Linked DNA regions of Homo sapiens. The protein of the gene in region 3 interacts with the protein of the main gene of each other region in a pairwise test. Each region holds a gene or a part of one and is shown on either strand. Other genes may lie near its edges.

Region 1 (7,085 bases), on a different chromosome or scaffold from region 3:
AAAAGGAGTATTTTCATAAAGATAAAAGCCAAAATTCATGAATTTTAAAATATAAAACTAATAAATACATGCCATGTGTATGGCAGAGTTTCTGTCTTCAACTCTGACTTCTACCCTGTAGTCTAGTGTCCTGTATCCCACTGCAAAGTTCTTTCTTCTTGGATGTCTGGTAGGCACCTCAGATTTAACGTGCCCAGCCCCCACACACACACAAAACTTGCAGTTAGTTTTTTCCATTCTAATAAATGACATTACCATCTGTCCCCTTGCTTAAGTTAAACCTTTGGAGTCATCCCTGATTGTTCTTTCGTGTCACATGGCTAATTGATTAATTAGCAAGTTCCATGGGCTCAAATTTAAAGACATATTTAATGTAATCCGGCTGCTGTTTTCCATCTCTACTACTTCCAGCTTAGACCAAGCCAACATCTTCTCTCATCTGGACCACTGCATTAGCTTTCCAGCTGATCTCACAGCTTTCAGTCTTGCCCCACCCGCCAACACTACAGCCAAAGCAGTCCTTCAAAAATGTAAATCAGAGTATGTCTGAAGCTTGCTTGAAAACTTTCCAGTGGCTTCTCATCACACTGAGGAAAAAGTCCAAACTCCTTTCCCTGGCCAGGAAGGTCCTCCATGGCCCTACATTTCAGCCTCTGATCCCCAGCCTGATAACTCACATGCCAGAGTTATTCTTGTTGGTCCCTCTTCCTGGCACGCTCCTCCTTAGCCTTTCACATGGCTGGCCTCTCTCACATAGTCCCTCTTCATATTCTGAGACCACTTTCTGAAGTTACCTCATTTCTCGCTTCACTTGTATTTCCATGACCTTGTTTTATTTTTCATTATAGTACTATGGCTATTGAAATTATATACCTGTCTGTTCTTGCCTACTAGAATAGCATAAGGCTTCATGAGAACAAGGACTGTGTCTGTCTTGTTTCCCACTATAGCCCAGAGACATACTACATTGGACGTATATATTAAGTACTAAATAAATGTTCACAGAAAGCATGAATTTAAAAATTAAGGATAGATTATGAGAAAAGAAAAAAGTTCTAGAGCCAAGACATTGCTTTTTTTTTTTTTTTTTTTTTTTTTTTTTTTTTTTTGGGACAGAGTATTATCTCTCTGTTGCCCGGGCTGGAGTACAGTGATGCAATCGCCACTCACTGCACGCAACCTCCGCCTCCTGGGTTCAAGTGATTCTTATGCCTAAACCACCCAAATAGCTGGGATTATAGACCCACACTGCCACGCCCAGCTAATTTTTGTATTTTTAGTAGTGATGGGGTTTCGCCATGTTGGCTAGGCTGACGGTCTCAAAGTCCTGACCCCAATTGACCTGCCTGCCTCGGCCTCCCAAAGTGCTGGGATTATGGGCCTGAGCCACCACACCCGGCCAGCACTGCTTTCTAATAGAAAAAGAAACAACTTGGAAGAAATTAGAAGAAATGCAGTATGTTGAACCAAAACATAGCAAAGGATTATTAGAAGGGCAGCTGATGCTGGATAAAGGAAAAGATATTATGCATCAACCACCTCATAGTGCTGGAGCAGTAGTTTGAGGGTTGAAGGAACAGTGAGGATTTAACTAGAAATATAATCTTAGTACTCAAGACCTAGAAAAAAGAGAATGATAGTCTGCCACCAGATTGGTTTCCCTTAACTCTTTAATTTGTATCTTCAAATTCTCTCTCACCTAGCCTGGCCAACATAATGAAACCCCATCTCTACTAAAAATACAAAAATTAGCCGGGCATGGTGGCGCATGCCTGTAATCCCAGCTACGTGGGAGGCTGAGGTAGGAGAATCGCTTGAACCTGGGAGGAGGTGGTTGTAGTGAGCCAAGATCACACCACTGCACTCCAGCCTGGGTGACAGAGCGAGACTCCGTCTAAAAAAAAAAAATTCTCTCTCACTCTTTCACTGCGCACTTGAACTCTGTTCTGGCCTGTCCTGGACTGGGTAAATGACAAGTAGGCAAAAACCAGGACTTGGAGTATAGACCAGGATATGGCAAACTACAGCCACAAGCCAAATCCAGCCTGCCACCTGTTTTTGATAGCCTAAAAGCTAAGAATGGTTTTTACAGTTTTAAATCATTGGAAAGCAAAATATTTCATGATAATGTGAAAATTATGTGAACTTAAATTTTAGTGTCCATAAATAGTTTATTGGAACACACCTATCCTTTTTTGTTTACATATTATCTGTGCCTGCTCTCGTGCTACAATAGTATCATTGAGGAGCTGCGACACAGATGGTCTGTCTGACCCACAAAGCCTACAATCTTTACTATCTTGCTCTTTATAGAAAAAGTTTTCCAGCATCAGGTATACACTTGGCAAATGACTCTTCCTTTCGTATCCTTGGAGGATGATTGATGAAGGAATCTGATATAGCCAAAGATATGTAGGCCATTTTTCTTTGTGATAAAAATTATTTCTTCTCTTTTTACAGCAATTCAATTAAACCCCAGCTATATCAGGGCAATATTGAGGAGAGCAGAGTTGTATGAGAAGACGGACAAGCTAGATGAAGCCCTGGAAGACTATAAATCTATATTAGAAAAAGATCCATCAATACATCAAGCAAGAGAAGCTTGTATGGTAAAACCTAAAATTTTAAAAATATTTTTCCTTCTATTCTTTGTGTTGCTACCCAGTGAGTCCTAAATAATCCTTTCAGACACAATTAAATTCCATTTCTGTGCTTTTGAGGAGCTTATCAAGATATATGGGAGGCCAGGCGCAGTGGCTCTTGCCTGTAATCCCAGCACTTTAGGAGGCCAAGGAGGAGAGATCACTTGAGGCCAGGAGCTCGAGACCAGCCTGGCCAACACAACAAAACCCCATCTCTTCTAAAAATACAAAAAATTAGCCGGGTGTGGTCGTACACATCTGTAATCCTAGCTACTCGGGAGGCAGGAGAATTGCTTGAACCCAGAAGGCAGAGGTTGCAGTGAGCTGAGATCATGCCACTACACTGCAGCCTGGGCAACAGAGAGGATCATTGAGCCCAGGAGTTGGAGGCTGCAGTGAGCTGTGACTACATCACTGCATTCCATCATGGGCAACAGAGTAAGACTTTGTATCTTAAAAACAAACCAACAGGCTGGGTGCAGTGGCTCACGCCTGTACTCCCAGCACTTTGGGAGGCCGAGGAGGGCGGATCACCTGAGGTCGGGAGTTCGAGACCAGCCTGACCAACATGGAGAAACCCTGTCTCTACTAAAAATACAAAATTAGCTGGGTGTGGTGGCACATGCCTGTAATCCCAGCTACTCGAGAGGCTGAGGCAGGAGAATCGCTTGAACCCAGGAGGTGGAGGTTGCAGTGAGCTGAGATTGCGCCACTGCACTCCAGTCTGGGCGACAGTGTGAGACTCTGTCTTAAAAAAACAAAAAATACAAATGAATTTAAAAAAAAGTTAAAAATACAAATATAGCACTGTAAACATCTGATATGTATCCTTTCAAACTTTTTTCTGTATATATTTATTTGTTAAATTTGTATTGATGCCCTCCTTTAGTGTAGACTTTCTATTAAGAACTGGAAACAGAGCCAAACAAAACTTTTTTTTTTTTTTTTTTTTGAGAAAGGGTCTCTGACTCCCAGGCTGGAGAGCAGTGGCACAGTCATGGCATACTGCACCCTCAACCTCCCAGATTCAAGCAACCCTCCCACCTCAGCCTCCTGAGTAGCTGCGACTACAGACACATGCCAACACACCCAGCTAATTTTTGTATTTCTTGTAGAGACAGCATTTTGCCATGTTGCCCAAGGTGGTCTCAAACTCCTGAGCTCAAGCGATCCTCCCAACTCGGCCTCCAAAAGTGCTGGGAATATGGGCAGGAGTCACTGCACCTGGCCCAAACAGAACTTTTGTCTTTATGTAGCGCACCACAAACATAAATACTTGGGGTTTTTTTTTTTTATTTAATAGGATCATAGACATACTTAACTTGATCTTATTTCCACATTAGGATTCTTGTGTTTCTCAAATTCAAAATAAAGGGAAAGGTTTTGGTTTTTTTTTTTTTTTTACCAACCCTTGTTTCTCCTCTTTTCCTCAGAGATTACCTAAGCAAATTGAAGAACGTAATGAAAGACTAAAAGAAGAGATGTTAGGTAAGCTTACTTCTTACTTTGCTTGATCATAAACAGCTAGGAACCTAGGGTGGGGACATAGCGAATACTAGAGGAGAACACATGAGTTAGAAAGTTTCGGACTCTACCACAAGGCTACTGACTTCTGAGTTATTTTGACCCCAGAAGGGGCAGCGTGGCTTAGAGAGGGTATTGGCTTTTTTTGGAAACCAGATTTCCTTTTTGATTTTCTTGGAAATTTTTCTTGCCTGCAAGAATTTAAGCATAATTCAGTTCCCTGGGATTATGCTTAAATGGGATTTAAAATCCTAGGATACCACCAACCTCGATTTCAGATAACAATTACATAAAAACAGTTTAGTTTCTTCATTGAATAATCATTCCTTGAGGTTCATTAGGATGCAGTCAAGATCATGAGAATTTTTATTTAGAAAATGGCACTCAAAGTCCCTTTAGTGTTTGAGAACACACGAGAGGGCAGGAATTAGGAGTAAAGAGAAATCAGACTGGGGGTAGGGGTAGGGCAAATGGATTCATTTGATCCATGTTTAGTTATTTCTCATATTTGCCAAAGCATTTTAGAGTTGGAACCTCCCACGAGCAATCTGCTTAAGTAAGAGGAGTGAGGGTTCCTGAACACAGACTTAAGTCTTTTCCACATGTAACCTGTCTGATATTTCGCTGGTGAAGATCTGCCATGTATTTTCCTTTTTGAGTATTTTCTAAATCTGTTGTTTGAATTACATTTTATAAACTGCAATCATGTGGCCCTAAAGGAAAAATCATTTAAAATAAATTGAGCCTGTCTGGCATTTATGGCCTTCAGACATCAGCATCCAGACAATGGGAACAAATTTCCCAAAGGATCATTCTGATAGCCAAGTTGATTGAGAGGAGGCCATTAACCTAGACTATCCAGAGACTTTGGCCCCTGCCGGGTAGACTCAGACTGTAAAGACGGCTGCTTCCGATTCAGGATAGCTCTGGAGCCTTCCCCAGATTTTCCAAAAAAGGGAGGGGGATGGGGGAGCTTTTCCCCTAATTTACATATTTAATTAAACTTGGCCAGGCACGGTGGCTCCTGTAATCCCAGCACTTTAGGAGGCCAAGGTAGGAGGATTGCTTGAGCCCAGGAGTTCAAGGCCAGCCTAGGCAACATGGTGAAACCCCATCTCCACAAAAAATTAGTCAGGCATGGTGGCATGTGCCTGCCCATAGTCCCAGCTACATGGGAGGATCACTTGAGCCCAAGGGTTAGAGGCTGCAGTGAGCTATGATGGTGCCACCACACTCCAGACTGGGCAACAGAGCATGACCCTGTCTCAAAGAAGAGGGAAAAGAGCATTTTCTCACCTATTTTTACTAACAATGATGCTCTATTTTAGCAAAAAAAAAAAAAAAAAAAAAAAAAACTGTTTGCATTTAGTATTTGAATTTCTTGCTAAAAAAGATGACCTTGTGAATGGCCATAGTGGATCTGGAAGGCATTGGTCTCTTAGTCCATTTTTTTAAAGCCAGTCCAGTAAAGGGACTGGTGCAAACTGAATCTTACTGCCTATTGTTAGTTCCAGATGGAATTAAAACTTCCATTTGTCCTTGTCTTTATAAATTCTAATGCACCAGAATTTTCTGTCTCCAAGGCTTTGGGTTTTTCTTATGTCATTCTCTTCATTTGAAAAAATTCAAATTGAATTCATTCCCTCGGTTGCTTCTAAAATGAATTCACCTGCCATTAGACTTAACCAACTTAAGTTGCTTTGTAAATAATATGTGTTGTTACACATGTGTAGTTTGAATGGCTAGATTCCTTTTTTCCCTTAATGAGTATAAAAATCATGAATAAGATACTGCTCTAGGTGTTACCCCACAATAGATAACCTAGAAGAGAGAAATCACTCTTTACATGGAATTTCAGCCCCCACAAGAGCTTTTCTGGTATTCCTTCCTCCTTGTTGCTGATGAGGTAACTTTGGTTCATGTTCTGTGAGATTCCCTAGAGGCTAGACATTCTGAATGCAAATTAATATCACTTAGAAGTTCTGAGCAAGCTTTTCACAGTGGACTGCATCATCTTTATGCTAGTTCCTGTTAAAATGATGGCTTCTATGGAGAATAAGCAGTTAAAAATTTTTTAAATTGGGTAGTGTGGGCTGGGTGTGGTGGCTCACACCTGTAATCCCAGCAATTTGGGAGGCTGAGCCCGAGTTCAAGACCAGCCTGGGCAACATGGCAAAATCCTGTCACTAAAAAAATTAGCCAGGTGTGCTGGTGTGCACCTGTAGTCCCAGCTACTTAGGAGGCTGCTGTGGGAGGATCACTTGAGCCCAGGAGATCGAGACTTCAGTGAGCCACAATGATGCCACTGCACTCAAGCCTGGGTGACAGAGTGAGACCTTGTCTTTAAAAAAAAAGAAAATTATAAAATCAGGTAGTGTGATGCCTATGCCTGTAGCTTTTGTTCTTTTTATTCAGGATCACTTTAGCTTTCAGAGTCTTTTGTGGTTCCATACAAATTTTAGGATTTTTCTATTTCTGTGAAGAATGTCATTGGTGTTTTGACAGGGATTACATTGAATCTGTGGATCACCTTGAGTAGTACAAAATGGGTTTTTATTTAGATGTGTTCAGTATTCTTTAACTTGTTTTTTCTTCCATCTCTGTAATTTCCTTTTCATTAGAAAGAAGAGCTATGTACTCCTTGAGGGAAAAAATCCTGATAGGAATTATTAGTGGGTAGAACAATTATTTGCTTTGCCCTTTCTAGCCCATCATTTATAATCTTTAGAACAAGAGACCCAGGGTGGCCATTAGTCCTAGTGGCACAGTCCTTGCTGATCACAGAAGATGATCGTGATAGCATCAAGACGATCACTTGAGGAAAGTGGTCAGCAGCTGGAGTGGGGGTTGGTTGTTTTTGTTTGTTTGTTTGTTTGTTTGGTCCTTTTCTCTGGGATAATTAGCCTCCCAGCCATAATA
Region 2 (7,798 bases), on a different chromosome or scaffold from region 3:
CATCAGAGTTTCCTCTAGCACTAAATGCTCTGAGAAAACTAAAAAGGCATATCTACAAATTGCAAGGGAAAATATTTTGACACAAATACAATACTGACTTAAGCTTTTCATATGTGAATGATCATTCATATGCCAAGGTGGAGATGGAAGTCAGGGAGAAAAAAAGACCTTTCTTAGACTTTTTTTTTTTTCTTTTTTTTTCTTTTGAGACGGAGTCTTGCTCTGTCGCCCAGGCTGGAGTGCAGTGACGTGATCTCAGCTCACTGCAACCTATGCCTCCTGGGTCCAAGCGGTTCTCGTTTGTGCCTCTGCCTCCCAAGTAGTGGGACTACAGGGCATGCCACCACGCCAGGCTAATTTTTGTATTTTTAGTAATGATGGGGTTTCCTCATGTTTCCCAGGCTGGTCTTGAACTCGTGACATCAGGTAATCCACTCGCCTCGGCCTCCCAAAATGCTAGGAATACAGGCCTGAGCCACCGTGCCTGGCCCTTTCTTAGACTTTCAAGGACTCACATGCACACTGCCTACTTACTCATTTGAGGGAGATTCTATCTATCTATCTATCTATCTATCTATCTATCTATCTATCATCTATCGATCTATCTGTCTATCTATCTATCTGCCTACCTACCCATCTAAAATCATGGAAAGACAAAGTTACAAGAATGGCCAACAGATGTGATCTTGTGTTCTAGCTCCAACTGACTGTCCAGAGCACTGTCCAAGAAGGATTGTGACATTCCATCCAGTCTCAGATGTAAGAGTGCCTGGATTGATTAGTAACATCAGCCACAGGCCCCTGTGCCATATGCAAACCCCTGAACTCACAAAGAAAAGTATTGAAGTTGAGAAACCAAACACAGTCTTCTTCTAGGGTGTGGGATGAGATTTAGACACATGGGATATTCATGTTGACCACTCCTGTATTGTGTGGTTTCTTATGCGTATACACTGCTTTCATGAGAACAATACATGTAATTCCATTTTTAATGTGTGTATATATTTCTATGTATATTTTGTCTATTTGTATGTATGTTTTTTTTTTTTTGAGATGGAGTTTTGTTTTTGCTGCCCAGGCTGGAGTGCAATGGTGTGATCTCGGCTCACTGCAACCACCGCCTCCCAGGTTCAAGAAATTCTCTTGCCTCAGCCTCCTGAGTAGCTGGGACTACAGGCATGTGCCACCACACCTGGCTAATTTTTGTATTTTTAGTAGAGATGGGATTTCACCATGTTTGCCAGGTTGGTGATCCGCCTACCTCAGCCTCCCAAAGTGCTGGGATTACAGGTGTGAGCCACTGCACCCAGCCTTTGTATGCATTTTTAAATGTAGGTATTATTGTACTTATACCTTTTGAGACAACAATTCCAATTTTTGATATTTAATTAATGGAACTAATCAGATCAGTGTACAAAGACGCAGGTAAGCTATTGTCCACAGTGGAGTGGTGTTTTTTTGTTTTTTGTTTTTTGAGACAGAGTCTGGCTCTGTCACCCAGGCTGGAGTGCAATGGCACCATCTTGGCTCACTGCAACCTCCATCTCCCGGGCACAGGCGATCCTCTCACCTCAGCCTCCTGAGCAGCTGGTACAACAGGCATGTGCCACCACGCCCGGCTAATTTTTGTATTTTTTGTAGCGATGGGGTTTCATCATCTTGCCCAGGCCAGCCTTGAACTTCTGAGTTCAAGCGACCTGCCCACCTTGTCCTCCCAAAATGCTGGGATTACAGGCATGAGCCACCGCGCCTGGCCAAAATATGTTTAAAATATGTTTAATATTGTTACAGTAAACACATACCAACCAACAAAAAACCAAAATGACAAATTGGATACAAATCCAGAACCGAGAGTCAGCCCTCCTCAGCTATGTTAGATGCCACAGAAACAAGCGACATATTTCTTTCTTTTTTTTGAGACAGAGTTTCACTCTTTTTGCCCAGGCTGGAGTGCAATGGCATGATCTCAGCTCACTGCAACCTCCACCTCCCAGGTTCAAGTGATTCTCCTGCCTCAGCCTCCCAAGTAGCTGTGATTATAGGCATCCACCACCATGCCCAGCTAATTTTGTATTTATTTATTTAGAGACAGAGTTTCACTCTTGTTGCCCAGGCTGGAGTGTAGTGGCACCATCTCAGCTCACTGCAACCTCCGCCTCCCGAGTTCAAGTGATCCTCCTGCCTCAGCTTCCTGAGTAGCTGGGATTATAGGTGCCCGCCACCACATCCAGCTAATTTTTGTATTATTAGTAGAGACAGCATTTCACCACATTGGCCAGGCTGGTCTCGGAACTCCTGACCTGAGGTGATCCATCTGCCTCGGCCTCCCAAAGTGCTGGGATTACAGGCATGAGCCACCGCACCCGGCCAATTTTGTATTTTTAGTAGAGATGGGGTTTCACCACGTTAGCCGGGGTGGTCTCGAACTCCTGACCTCAGGTGATCGGCCTGCCTCGGCCTCCAAAAGTGCTGGAATTACAGGCGTGAGCCACTGCGCCCGGCCAAAGACATATTTCTATCAAAGCACGTATCCAGTTTGCTTCTAAAGTGAGCATCATATTGTCATTTGCATGATTAAATTAAACTTTATGCCTTATTTGCATTTTGTTAGTTTTGCCTTTAATGTTCTTTTCTTGTTCCAGGATCCCATTTAGGATGTCATACTGCATTTAGTTGTCTTGTCTCCTTAAGCCCCTCTGGGAGATCTCTGCATTTTAAACAGGGCTTAACCATCGTGCCATTGGACTGTGACTTCTGCCAAAGACCTGGGCCACCCATCCCCAAGGCAAGATGAGGACACTCACCCCGGATCCTGAGTTCCTGACGACTGCCTTGATCTGCTGTTGGGAGCAGCACCGATTTCTGTATCTTCCTTTTCCTCCTCTTTATGGGAGAACAGGATAGTCTTTGCACTTGAGCTCTCCCAGGCAGTAACAGCTGTCACTTAGGGGACAGTGCCTGGAGAGCCTGCGGCAGCTGGACCCATCTGGTAGCTCTGGCCTTAGCACACGCCCAGGCCTGGAGCCTTCTGTATCACTCCAGGGTGACTGACCTCTTGAATGAGTGCACTCAGAGTGCAAACAGGCTCCACCTGACTTTCACAATCCGAAAGCACCAGTAGCCCAGTGCTTTCATTGTTATGTGTTGGCCTCAAGTAAAGAGAAAACATCCGGATCCTCTGGACAGGCAGGAGAATGGACTGCAGAGGACCTGCGGTCTGTGGGTTCCATCACTGCAGGGGGATATGTAGTGTGCCCACTCCAGGTCTCTATTGCCCAATATCATCAATATTTAACCACGGAGCAGGGAGCCAGGCTGGCCTTTTACAGCCTGTGCTTTCTCATAGTGAAGGTCATGGCATGATGTGAATTCCTCACAAGGAGCTGTAAAATATGACCTTTGGAGGTGGGGGTTGGGAAAGGCTGTGTGAGCACCAGTGACCCAGAGAGTAGGAAGCAGGCCAAGGCAAGTAACTTGATGGGGAAGCAGGAATGAGGTGCTCCTCCCACCTGACCAGCACCATTCAACTCTGATAGTCTATGGACTTTTCCACCAACTGGCTCCGTGCATCTTAGGCAATCATTGTTGGTTTAGCAAGGAGTGGGCTTATGTGAAATAAGCCCACTCCTTTTTTTTTTTTTTTTTTTTTTTTGAGATGGAGTCTCGCTGTGTCACCCAGGCTGGAGAGCAGTGGCACAATCTTGGCTCACTGCAACCTCCACCTCCCCGGTTCAAGCAATTCTCCTGCCTCAGCCTCCTGAGTAGCTGGGACTACAAGTATGTGCCATCATGCCCGGCTAATTTTTTCTATTTTTAGTAGAGATGGTGTTTCACCGTGTTAGCCAGGATAGTCTTGATCTCCTGACCTCGTGATCTGCCCACCTCAGACTCCCAAAGTGCTGGGATTACAGGCATGAGCCACCACGCCCAGCCGCCCACTCTTATTTCTTACTTCACAAATGAAACAGAGGCTGAGTGAGGTCACATGTCAAGCCCAAACTCCTCTATGAGTTAAACATTAGTCAACAGTGTGTACTGTGTGTGCATGGGGCAGAGGAAAGAAGACCCAACAGGGAATCTAGGGGCTGCCTGGAACTCCAGCTCCTCCTCATTTTGTAATGCATTCATTTATTCATTGAATAAATGTTACTTGAGCATCTACTGTGTAGATACATGGTAAATAAGACAGGTGAGGGCCCTGCTCCATTGGAGCTCAAACTCCAGGGGAGATAGCCAACAAAAAAGTAAGCAAAAGCATAATTAAAAGATAATTATAGCAGTGATCATTTCTGTGAATATCTTAAACAACATAATAAGATAGAAAGGGATGAGGTGGGGGAGACATGATTACTATATTACTACACTAAAAACTGAATGATGAGGGGTTAACCATGCAAAGACCTGAAAAAGCAGGTACAAAGGCCAGGCGTGGTGGCTCATGCCTGTAATCCCAGCACTTTGGGAGGCCAAGGCAGGTGTATCACCTGAGGTCAGGAGTTCGAGACCAGCCTGACCAACAAGGTGAAACTCCGTCTCTACTAAAAATAAAAAAATTAGCCAGGTGTGGTGGCAGGCGCCTGTAGTCCCAGCTACTCAGGAGGCTGAGACAGGAGAACTGCTTGAACCCGGGAGGCGGAGGTTGCAGTGAGCTGAGATCGCACCACTGCACTCCAGCCTGGGCAACAGAGCAAGACTTCATCTCAGAAAAAAAAAGAAAAGAAAAGAAAGCAAGCAGGTACAAAGACACTGAAGAAATAATGAGCTTAATGTGTCTGGAACAAAAAGGTGGCCAATATAGCTGAATCATAGTGATGAGGGGGAAGTGGCATGGAATAAAGTCAGAGGACAGACAGGAGTATCCACTCCTCATGGTGGGCCTTGTAAAACAGGGTAAGGAGTTTGTATTTTACCCTAAAAGTGATGAGAAGCCACTGGAGGGTTTAGGCAGGAAAGTGACATAATCTAATTGACATTTGTCTAAGATCACTTGGCCTGCTGGGTGGAAAATGGATTGTAGGAGAGCAAGAGAGGAACAGGGAGACCATTGGGAGGCTGTTATATTCATCCAGGCAAAACATATTAGTAGTTTGGACCAGGCTGGTGGCAGTGGAGATGATGAGAAGTGGTCAGATTCAGGGTGCATTTTGGAGAGAAAGGTAGTTGATAGATTTCAAGAGAGAAGCTCAACACTAACTCTCTTAAACACAAAAGGAATTTATTGGCTCATAAACTAGGAAGGGCAGGGTGGAGCTGACCTGAGGCATACGGGAACCAGGGATTTGACGACCCGTAGTGCTTTGTTTCTGTGGCTCTTTCCCTGCTTTTCTCTGGGTGCCAGGCTCATTACCCCAGGCTGGCCACCTCCGGGAAGCTTGACCAGATGATAGGAAACCCAGGCTCATGCTCTCATAGCTGCAGAGGAAGTAGCTACTTTTCTTAGCTCTTGTTTAAAAATTCTTGGAAAGGACTCTAATTGTCCAGCCTGAGTCATGTACCTATGTCTTGGATCAATTGTTATGGCTAGGGAGGGGGGTACCACTGATAGCCAACTCAGAGCTCATCATGCCTGTTGGGTAGCCAGGAGAGACAGGCTGTGAGCTGGACAGCCCATGCCATGTGGGTGCCTGAAGGAACCATTTGACCTCAATCCCCCTTGTCTGCCTCTGAGGAGTGTTGTGGTGCTCTAATGGGATGGTGTCCCCTTAACAAGGAGCCTGCACAATCCCAGGTTTTCCACTCTTCTGCTTCTGTGTCTTTTCTCTCCCTCCTCTTACCCTAGCTCTTTCTACTACGGCCTATCCAATAACTTGTTCCATGGTTGCCATGTGCCAGGCATTATGCCAGTGATAAACAGTCGAAAGGATTGTCCCTGCCCTCATGGAGACTCCAGTCTAGCAGAACAGACAGACGGGTGTTCATCATGTCATCACAACTTCTGTGTGACAAGTGCCATGAAGGAAACGTACACATGGAGATGAGAGCACATCACCAAGCCCTCCTTTCCTCACAGCATCACTATCATTCCTGGCCAATCAATCCCACCTTGAAATCTCCTCTCCTGACTTCTCCAGTCTCTTATCTCCCTACCTAGAGGATGATAGACAGTCAGCAGTGTAGTGGAGTGGAAAGGGCTTTTGGTTTTCCTCTGCTATTCTGGTATCTGCCACCTGCTAACCCTTCAAGCCTCAGCTTAAATGTCATCTTCTTAGGGAGGCCTTCCATATCAGTTGAGAATTGTGTTTGGCTCTGGGTAACAAAGACCCAATGTCAGTGGTTTAAACCATAAGAGTTTATTTTCTCATAGAAGAATGTCAGAAGTAGCCAGTTATTAATGTCGTAAGACCAAGGAAATCAGGGCTGAGGTTTCTAAGACTCCCTCATGGCCCCTAGATGGCTGATGCAGCTCCTGCCATTATATCCAAGTTCCAAGCAGAAAAAAAAGCAAAAGGGAAGAAGGACAAAAAGGTGTGACCATGCTCTATAGTAAACGAATAACCTATCTGAGAGTAAACTCAGATAATACAGAGAACTAAGGTCAAGGGAGTTATTCCCAGAAAACAGTAGCAAGGGCAGCCAGGTGGGCTAACCAAAGAACTTACTCTACTGCCAGGGTGGAGGTCTTCACAGCTCATGCCCAGCAGGATTTGATAACTGTCATGGGCCTGTGCTGCTGTGTGGACTGTAGCACAGCCTGCTAATTTCCCCCTAGATTACATTCTTCCCTTCTTCCTTTTAATAAGAGAATCCTCTAAATTTTAGAGGCATATGGCCACCCAACTGGAAACTGCAGTTCCCAGGCCAGGCGTGGTGGTTCATGCCTATAATCCCAGCACTTTGGGAGGCCGAGGTGGTCGGATCACGAGGTCAGGAGTTCAAGACCAGCCTGGCCAACATGGTGATACCCCATCTCTCCTAAAAATACAAATTAGCCAGGCATGGTGGCGTGCACCTGTAATCCCAGCTACTCAGGAGGCTGAGGCAGGAGAATCGCTTGAACCTGGGAGGTGGCGTGAGCTGAGATCACGCCATTGTACTCCAGCCTGGGTGACAGAGCAAGACTCCATCTTAAAATAAATAAATAAATTAATTAATTAAAAAAATTAATGAACCTGCATTTCCCAGATTCCCTGCAGTCATAAGTGGTCCTCTAAGTTTTGGCCGAAAGAGACCTGAGAAGTGATTGCAACTTCAGAATCACTATTTTTTTTTTTTTGAAATTTATACAAACTTTTTTTTGTTGGAGTATACATATAGGAAAGTACACAAATGGTAAGCTTAGTGAATTTTCACATGTGGACACACTCATGCATGGGAACATATGCCATCCAGATCAACAAATAAAACAATTGCACCATTGCATCCTGTACTCCAGCCTAAGCAACAGAGTAAGACCCTGTCTCTAAAAGAAAAAAAGAAAAAGAAATAGAACATTTCCAGATCTCAGAAGTCTTCTCTTGTCACTATCCCTTACAAAGGCAACCTGACTTTTAATACCATAGATTAATTTTGTCTGTTTTTATACTTTATATAAATGTAATCAATCAATATGCAATCTTTTGTGTCAGCTTCTTTTGCTCTACATTATACTTGTGAGATTCATCCGCGTTGTGTGTAGTTGTGGTTCATTCATTCTTGTTGTAGCGTAGTATTCTATTGTGTGACTATGCTGCACTATTTCTACCTGTGGATCATGTTTTTGTGAGAAAATTCAACCCCTCCACTTCCTCATTCCTCTTTCTGGAACACAGATATGATGGTGGAAAGGACATGTCAGGACAGGGGTTGTTAACCTATGGGC
Region 3 (7,823 bases):
AGTACCTACTTCATAGATACCTATATATGTGTCTAATTTTTGTGTCTAATATATAGTAGTGTATTAGACTACACAGTGTCTAATGCACAGTAGTGTCCAATGCTAATTTTCTTTCTTCCTAGCTAGTCATTCCTAGCTGCTTCTCTCTTCTCTCACCTAAAACTATTAGATCCATTCAAAATGAGGAAAGCTCATTTAATTTGTTTCTCTAATTCCATCAGTTAAAATTTTTTTTGGTTTCTACCTGCTTATGATTTTGTTTTTCAGATACTAGGGAGTTCTAAGCATTGCTGGAAATCCCCTGATGAACAACAGCTTGGCTATGGTTACCAGTCTTCAGAGGGTCACCTAGGAATTTGCATGGCAACAGTCAACAATGGTGGGAGAGAAAGGCCCTCAGTGTAATGCACCTGTCCCGCCGGCAATCATTCCCAGTTTCTTCGCCACTCGGGGTTCTGGTGGAGATTTCTTGTTGGGCTGAATGTTAAAATGCCCTGAGAGGTCAGGTGAAGAGAGCAGTGGAAGAATAAAGTCAATACAGCGAACTTAGAAAACAAATGCAGAGTTGAAAATATGCCTGAGGCCAGTTGAGCAGCTGCTATGACATCTGATCCTGGAGCTTGGGTGGAAGCTTGAGTTGAGCCAGCCCTGACAATAATATAGTTGAGGGACAATGGGGCCAGGGCTATCTGTGAGTCAGTTCAGCGCCACACAATGTATCAGCTGCTTCTGGCAAAGTGTCACTCCCTGGTGAAGGAGACAGGCACAGAGCCAGGTGTGAATCTATTTTCCCAAGTGGCACACAGCAGCTCCAGGGACTTGCTAATGCACCCAGCTGTTCCCATGGGAAGGGCTGAAAGCTATCTCTGGCTCACTCCACAGCTCACCCAGGGGGGCAAATTTTTGAAGGTGGGGAAGAGGGGCACATGTTTGCTTTAGTAATCTCCACAGCTGCCATGGCTAGGGAATTCAAGTGGAGGAGGAACTGCTTCCTGTGGCAAATGGGGCTGAGAAACATGCCTTTCTATTGTATCAGCGCTATGTTTAGAAGGAAGGGCGGCCCTGGCCCTTACGTGCATACACATGTGTACACACAGCCATACTGTGCCAAGAGGACTATGGGAACTGATAAAGTGGGAGACAGGCTCAAGGAGAAGACAGGTCATTACCTTTTCCAGTGTAAGTGAGCAACCCGCTTGGCCCCCGAAACTCCACCACATCCCCAACCTTCAGGCTATCCAGGTACTGAGACATCTTCCCTCCCTCAGGAAATTTGGGGTGCACACCCTTCAGGTAGACCTTACAAGACAGAGAGAAAAATACCTTATTTGGAATGTCACTGGTTTCTGAGCCCCATGTTGACTAAACCTCCCTGAGGCTGGGGCAGGGATCAGATATGTGCTATCTTTTCCCCGTCTACATACTTTCTTTCTTTCTTTTTTTTTTTTGAGTCAGAGTTTTGCTCTTGCTGCCCAGGCTTGAGTGCAGTGGCGCAATCTTGGCTCACTGCAACCTCCGCCTCCTGGGTTCAAGTGAGTCTCCTGCCTCAGTCTCCTGAGTAGCTCATACTTTCTTCACATCCACAGAGTACATACCATTTCCTGCTGTCAGGCAAATCTTAGAAATTTCTACAAATCCCAGAAAGAATGGGTAAGCAGCCCCTGGGTCCCTTCCTAGCCCCTTACCTTGATGACAAGATCCACATAGCCTTGATCCTCATCACTGGTGACAGGAGTGTATGGCCTGATGACCAGGCTGCCATCAATTCGGGTGGAGAGGTAGATATGTTTGCCTGGGGACCGTGCAGAGAGCTACATAAGGGTTGTCTGTGATGTGCTGCATCCCTCAAAATACTCAAAGAGATTTGAGAGAACAAGATGTCTTGCTTCCTGCTGTGGTCCCAAGGAGCTACAAGGCAGGGAAGATTTGCCCCATTGAGCCCTCAGTTGGATCTCTTATAAGCGCCCAGTTGAGGAAACACTTATTTCCAGCGTTTCCTGCCAGTTACTGCCAGGACCTTGACAGATGAGCCAAAAGGGTCTGGGCAATGGGAAAAAGTTAGTAGTGCTTGCTCAGAGGGAGTAATTAGCAAATCCTGCAGGGAAGAGGCAAGACTGTTGAGTGTTAAAGCTGGATGGGGGTCATGGAAGCCACACTCTAGAGGGGCCCAGTGGCACCTCACAGCTTGGAGGATGCAGAGCCAAGTGGGGGAAGGGGAATGGTGTGTGGAGCAAACCGGTTGAAGCAGCGTGTTTCATGAGATCCCAGGAGGGGAGTCACCTTCTGAGGATACCAGGGAAAGGAGCCCATTCCACACTTTCCTTACCCACAGGCAGCCCCAGAGTGTGGTGGGCGGTGGGCAGGGCAAAGCGGAACCTCTTGGTGTTGTGGCTCACAGTCTGGAGGGTGGAGGACACAAGTGTTTCACCAAGCGCGCCTGGCGCTGCCACGTCCCTTGGACATCCCAACCACCGTGGGTGCTGTACCCTCCATGCCAGGAGCACTCTGGTCCCCTCCTTCACCCTGGCCCTTTCTTCCCCAACTTACCGTCTTGTCTAGCAGTCGTAGCAGGTACTTTTCATTGGGGTCCAGGAGAGTGACCTGAGGCCGGCGGGACCTCCGAACCAAGTAGGAGCCCACAGCCAGGCCGAGCAGAGTGACCAGCCCCACCCCCAGGGAGGCCAGCAGGACGGGGCTCTGTGGGTAGAGGAGGCAGCGTGACCGCCAGGCTGGGTAAGAGCCCGGGGCTTGGGTGGTGACCGTCCCAGGGGTGGCGATCCCGAGCTCCAGCGCGGAGGCATGCCAAGGGCAGAGGGGTAACCTGGCGGAGTCCCGAGCCCGGATGTGCGGGATCGGGACCCCAGCATCCACGGTGGGCCCAGAGCCCTGCGGGGCGGGGTCGGCAGCGACAGCCCCTGGTCCGGAGCTGAGTGGCCAGAACCAGATGGGGAGGGGTCCCCCAGTGGAGGATACTGAATGAGGGTCTTACCGTCTGGATCCCCATGACGGAGCGCCTTTTCCTCCACCACCTGACAAGCCGACAGATCCCACAATGCGCCGCGGGGCGGGTCGGAGGGCGGGGCAGGCCGGGGGCGGGGCCGGGCAGGAGGCAGGACCTCGCGGCTGGGGGGGCAGGAGGCGGGGCCTGGCGGGGGGGGGGGGGGGTGTCTGTCGGGGGCGGGGCCTAGCAGGAGGTGGCGGCGGCGGGGCCTTTTGGGGGCGGGGTCCGGCAGAGGCGGGGCTGGGCCCCTCTGCGCGCCACCCTTTCCCTCCGCTACTCGGTGGCTCAGGGTCTCCGGTGCTTATTCAATACTTTTTTTTTTTTTTTTGAGTCGGAGCCTCGCTCTGTCGCCCAGGCTGGAGTGCAGTGGCGCGATCTCGGTTACTGCAACCTCCGCCTCCCAGTTTCAAGTGGTTCTCCTGGCTCCGCCTCCCGAGTATCTGGGACTACTGGCGTGCGCCACCACGCCCGGCTAATTTTTTTTTTGTATTTTTAGTACAGACTGGGTTTCACCGTGTTGGTCAGGGTGGTCTCGAGCTCCAGGGCTCAAATAATCTACCCGCTTCGGCCTCCCAACGTGTTGGGATTACAGGCGTGAGCCATCGCGCCCGGCCCCAAGATCTTTTAAGACCGCAGCTCCAGCCTCTCCTCCCAGCGAGGTGGTCCCTGCCACTTCGACCCGCTTATATCCGAACTGGATGGGAGTTCTGCCTAAGGTAGAACCACGCTAAATTGGGGGATTGGAAATCTCTTGAGTCTGCGGGTGCTGAGCGGAGAGTGTAACGATGAACCAGAGACAGGCTCAAAGTAGAGCAGAAGGGCCTGAAGTTAATCATTGTGCAGTCACCTTAGTTTTTCAACCGGCTGAATTGCAGCAAGAGAATGGAACAGCCCAGAGGAGTCTCTTACAGGAGTGAACAGTGGCATGGCAACTTCATTTCCTTTTGACAAAAGACTGATTTTGTTTACAGCGCCAAGCCGTCAGCCTATCAGGATGATTCAGGAGCTTCCTTTGGTTTCAAAGACCAAGCTTCACATCCTGATTTGGGTTCTTGTGCCCTTAGGGTCAAAGAAGTGGGCTTTGGAGGCAGAGTGTACAGAATAAGAATCTTGCCTCTAGCACTTATTGGCTCTGTGACCTTAGATAGCTTACTCAACCTGAGTTTCTTCATCTACAGATGGATATAAGATGGATATCTACAGATGGATATATATTATTATCTACAGATAGATTGTATCTAGTTCATAGCTTTGGTGTGAGGCTTCAGTGAGATATGTTAACGTGCTTAGTGTAGTGCCTGTCATAAAGCAAAATATTCAACAGTTGGCAGCTACTATTATAACTTAAAAGACAGCACAGAGGGTCAGCTATGGTTTTAGGAATGAGCTCTGCCTGGGGCACAAGCATGGGACAGGAGGAGGCAGGAAAAAACATCAGGAGCCGCTGGAGCTACAGATTTCCCAAGATGACCATTCTTTCTCATACATGAGTTTCTCAACTAGAATGACATTTGCTCTTTGATATACCGTGATGGATGAGATCTCTGCAGATGTCAGTGTCAACATCTTAAACTAATACCATCAGGGCAGCAGGGACATTAGAGCCCCCAGTTTTCAGTTGTATTTGGTGAACTCTGTGAATGATCCAAGAGATACTTAGTTTTCCTTTTCCTCTCCACTGGCTGAAAATGTTCCTAAGACCCCAGTACATGTTCCTCTGAATTTTTTAAGCAGCCTGCACACTGACTTGAGGGAAGTGAGTGCACCAGATCATGGTGACATGCCAATCCATGCAGAGAGGGTTGAAAAGGGGAAGGAAGGGACCCTTCCTCTTTTCTGTTCCGAGAGAATGAGGCGATTATGTTCCGGTGCTTCTGACATCCCCACTGCTGGCTTGGTTAAGAAGCCACACTACTGATCCTTGCCACTGCTCCACTCTGGCTAAAGAGGTTCTAGGCCTTCCTCCCTCTAGTGGATAGATGTGGCAAGAGAGGGGGAAGTATGGAACGAAAGGAGAGCATAACTACAACTCGGGCTTCTCTCAGTGATTGCATTTTCTGAACCCCAAAGTGGCACATTCTAACAAGTGTGAGTGTATCACTGGGAACCACAGGACAGAATGGTTGGGTGTGGGCTTATCCTGGAAACTAAGTGTTGGACTCAGTAATTGTGGGAAGGCTCTTTTGCTCCTGAAAATGAATGCTGCAGGAGTGGTGGGAAGGGGCTGATGGCCTGGCAGGTCTTCCTGTCTCAGATTCTGTGGTGAATTGAACTCCACTCCACCACGACTCATGGTAATCTTACATTACTCCTAGTTTGGAGGAAAAGATAGGCATTTCTGAATTTTTATTTAACCCAATCTTTTAAGTTTAGGATTTCCTCCTGGGTATACAATAAAGAATAGAACAGGCTGGGTTCACGCCTGTAATCCCATCACTTTGGGAGGCTGGATGGATCACTTGAGCCCAGGAGTTTGAGACCAGCCTGGGCAACATGGCAAAATCCTGTCTTTACAAAAATACAAAAATTAGCCAAGTGCGATGGCGCTGGCCTGTAGTCCTAGATACTAAGGAGGCTGAGGTGGGGGTATTGCTTGAGCCTGGGAGATCAACGCTGCAGTGAGCCATGATTGCGCCACTGCACTCCAGCCTGGGCAATAGAGCAAGACCCTGTTTAAAAAAATATATATATATAATGTAGTGTGAGGGGGAAGTAGAATTTCAAACCTGTGTTTTATAATTCTGAATTAGGATGTAAAACTCAGTGGCCCTTTTTAGATAAGATATCCAGAAAGAAGCTTGGAGGAAGACTTGCTCATACTGAGGAGATGGCATGGAGGAATCAGACCAGGAGATGTAATAATGACAAAAAAATTAACATTTATTGAGCATGTGCAATATAGCAAGAACTAGGTAAATTGCTTTTCACGTATTCTGACAACATCCATTTAATCCTGACAACAACTGTGAGATAGATATTATCATTAGTAGTCTCATTTTATGGAGTGGGGGGAAACTGAAGTTTAGGACAAGTAAGTCACTTGCCCAAGATCACCTACTAAATGGCAAACTCAGACTGCATACCAGGCAGCTTGATGTTGAAAACTAACAACCTCACACCCTTTTTGAACTTTTCTTTTTTTTTTGAGACGGAGTCTTGCTCTGTCACCCAGGCTGGAGTGCAGTGGCGCAATCTCGACTCACTGCAACCTCTGCCTCCCAGGTTCAAGTGATTCTTCTGCCTCAGCCTCCTGAGTAGCTGGGATTACAGGCATGCGCCACCATCCCCGGCTAATTTTTGTACTTTTAGTAGAGACGAGGTTTCACCATGTTGGCCAGGCTGGTCTCAAACTCCTAACTTCGTGATCCGCCTGCCTCAGCCTCCCAAAGTGCTGGGATTACAGGCGTAAGCCACCGTGCCTGGCTGAACTTTTTAGTATGGAAACTATCAAACATATACAAAAGTAGACAGAACAGTATAATAAAGCCCGACGTACCCATCACCCTCTTCAACAATTATTAAATCATGGTCACCTTTCTTTCATTTCTTCCCCAGTCCGTTCCTTCCTCCAGTATTATTTTTAAGCAAATCCCATATTTTTTATAACTTTGTCCTTAAATATTTTAGTGTGTATCTTTAAAAGCTAAGGACTTAAAAATAACCATAATACCATTATCACATGTAAAAATAATTAACAACAATTACTTAGTTTCATCAGATAGCTAGTCAGTGTTCAAAGTTCCACCTGTCTCTTTTTTTTTTTTTTTTTTTTGAGATGGAGTCTCACTCTGTCGCCTAGGCTGGAGTGCAGTGGCATGATCTTGGCTCACTACCAGCTCCACCTCCCAGGTTCACGCCATTCTCCTGCCTCAGCCTCCCGAGTAGCTGGGACTACAGGCGCCCGCCACCACGCCTGGCTAATTTTTTGTATTTTTAGTAGAGACGGGGTTTCACTGTGTTAGCCAGGATAGTCTCAATCTCCTGACCTTGTGATCCATCCTCCTCGGCCTCCCAAAGTGCTGGGATTACAGGGATGAGCCGCCGTGCCCGGCCTTTTTTTTTTTTTTTTTTTTTTGAGATGGAGTCTCACTCTGTCACCCAGGCTGGAGTGCAGTGGCACGATCTCGGCTCACTGCAACCTCTGCCTCCCGGGTTCAAGAGATTCTCCTGCCTCAGCCTCCTGAGTAGCTGGGATTATAGGCGACTTCCACAGCGCCCGCCATGGCGCCTGGCTAATTTTTGTATTTTTAGTAGAGAAGGGGTTTCACCATCTTGGCCAGACTGTTCTTGAACTCCTGACATTGTGATCCACCCGGCTCGGCCTCCCAAAGTGCTGGAATTACAGGCATGAGCCACTGCGCCTGGCCCCAGCTGTCTCATTTTAAATTTGTAATTGTCATACATTAAAATAGACTCTTGGGCATACAGTTCTGTGAATTCTAGAATATGTATAGATTTGTGGCACCACTATAATCAGGAAATAGACCAGTTTGATCACCCTGCAAATCTCCCATATGCTATCCCTTTATGGCCACATCCTCCCCTTACCTTTAACTCCTGGTTATCACTGATGTGTTCCCTGTCAATACACTTTTGCCTCTTTATGAATGTCACATAAATAAAGTCTATACAATATGTAAGCTTTTGAGTGGATTTCTTTCACTCAGCATAGTTTGAGATTCATCCAAGTTATCATGTGTATTTACAGTCCATTCTTTTCATTGCTAGTAGTATTCTGTTGTATGGCTGTATCATAATTTGTTTATCCATTCATCAGCTGAAGGACATTTGAGTTATTTCCAATTTTTGGTGATGATTGAAA

Evidence for each region. Proteins that work in one complex are often made in the same cells at the same time.
Region 1: the proteins of CYB5R1 (region 3) and TTC1 interact in binary tests that used the Homo sapiens proteins (3 or more experiments, as listed by UniProt).
Region 2: the proteins of CYB5R1 (region 3) and SLC51B interact in binary tests that used the Homo sapiens proteins (3 or more experiments, as listed by UniProt).

What each region holds. Positions count from the first base shown.
Region 1 is NC_000005.10:160,047,054-160,054,138, forward strand, and holds part of TTC1 (tetratricopeptide repeat protein 1), read left to right. Parts: intron 1-2,460; coding exon 2,461-2,609; intron 2,610-4,075; coding exon 4,076-4,130; intron 4,131-7,085.
Region 2 is NC_000015.10:65,040,589-65,048,386, reverse strand, and holds the start of SLC51B (organic solute transporter subunit beta), read right to left. Parts: upstream 3,001-7,798; 5' UTR 2,805-3,000; exon of another isoform or gene 2,674-2,804; coding exon of another isoform or gene 2,643-2,673; intron 1-2,642.
Region 3 is NC_000001.11:202,964,202-202,972,024, forward strand, and holds the start of CYB5R1 (NADH-cytochrome b5 reductase 1), read right to left. Parts: upstream 3,057-7,823; 5' UTR 3,005-3,056; coding exon 2,990-3,004; intron 2,698-2,989; coding exon 2,548-2,697; intron 2,400-2,547; coding exon 2,327-2,399; intron 1,793-2,326; coding exon 1,686-1,792; intron 1,300-1,685; coding exon 1,170-1,299; intron 495-1,169; coding exon 411-494; intron 1-410. UniProt on the Homo sapiens protein: NADH-cytochrome b5 reductases are involved in desaturation and elongation of fatty acids, cholesterol biosynthesis, drug metabolism, and, in erythrocyte, methemoglobin reduction.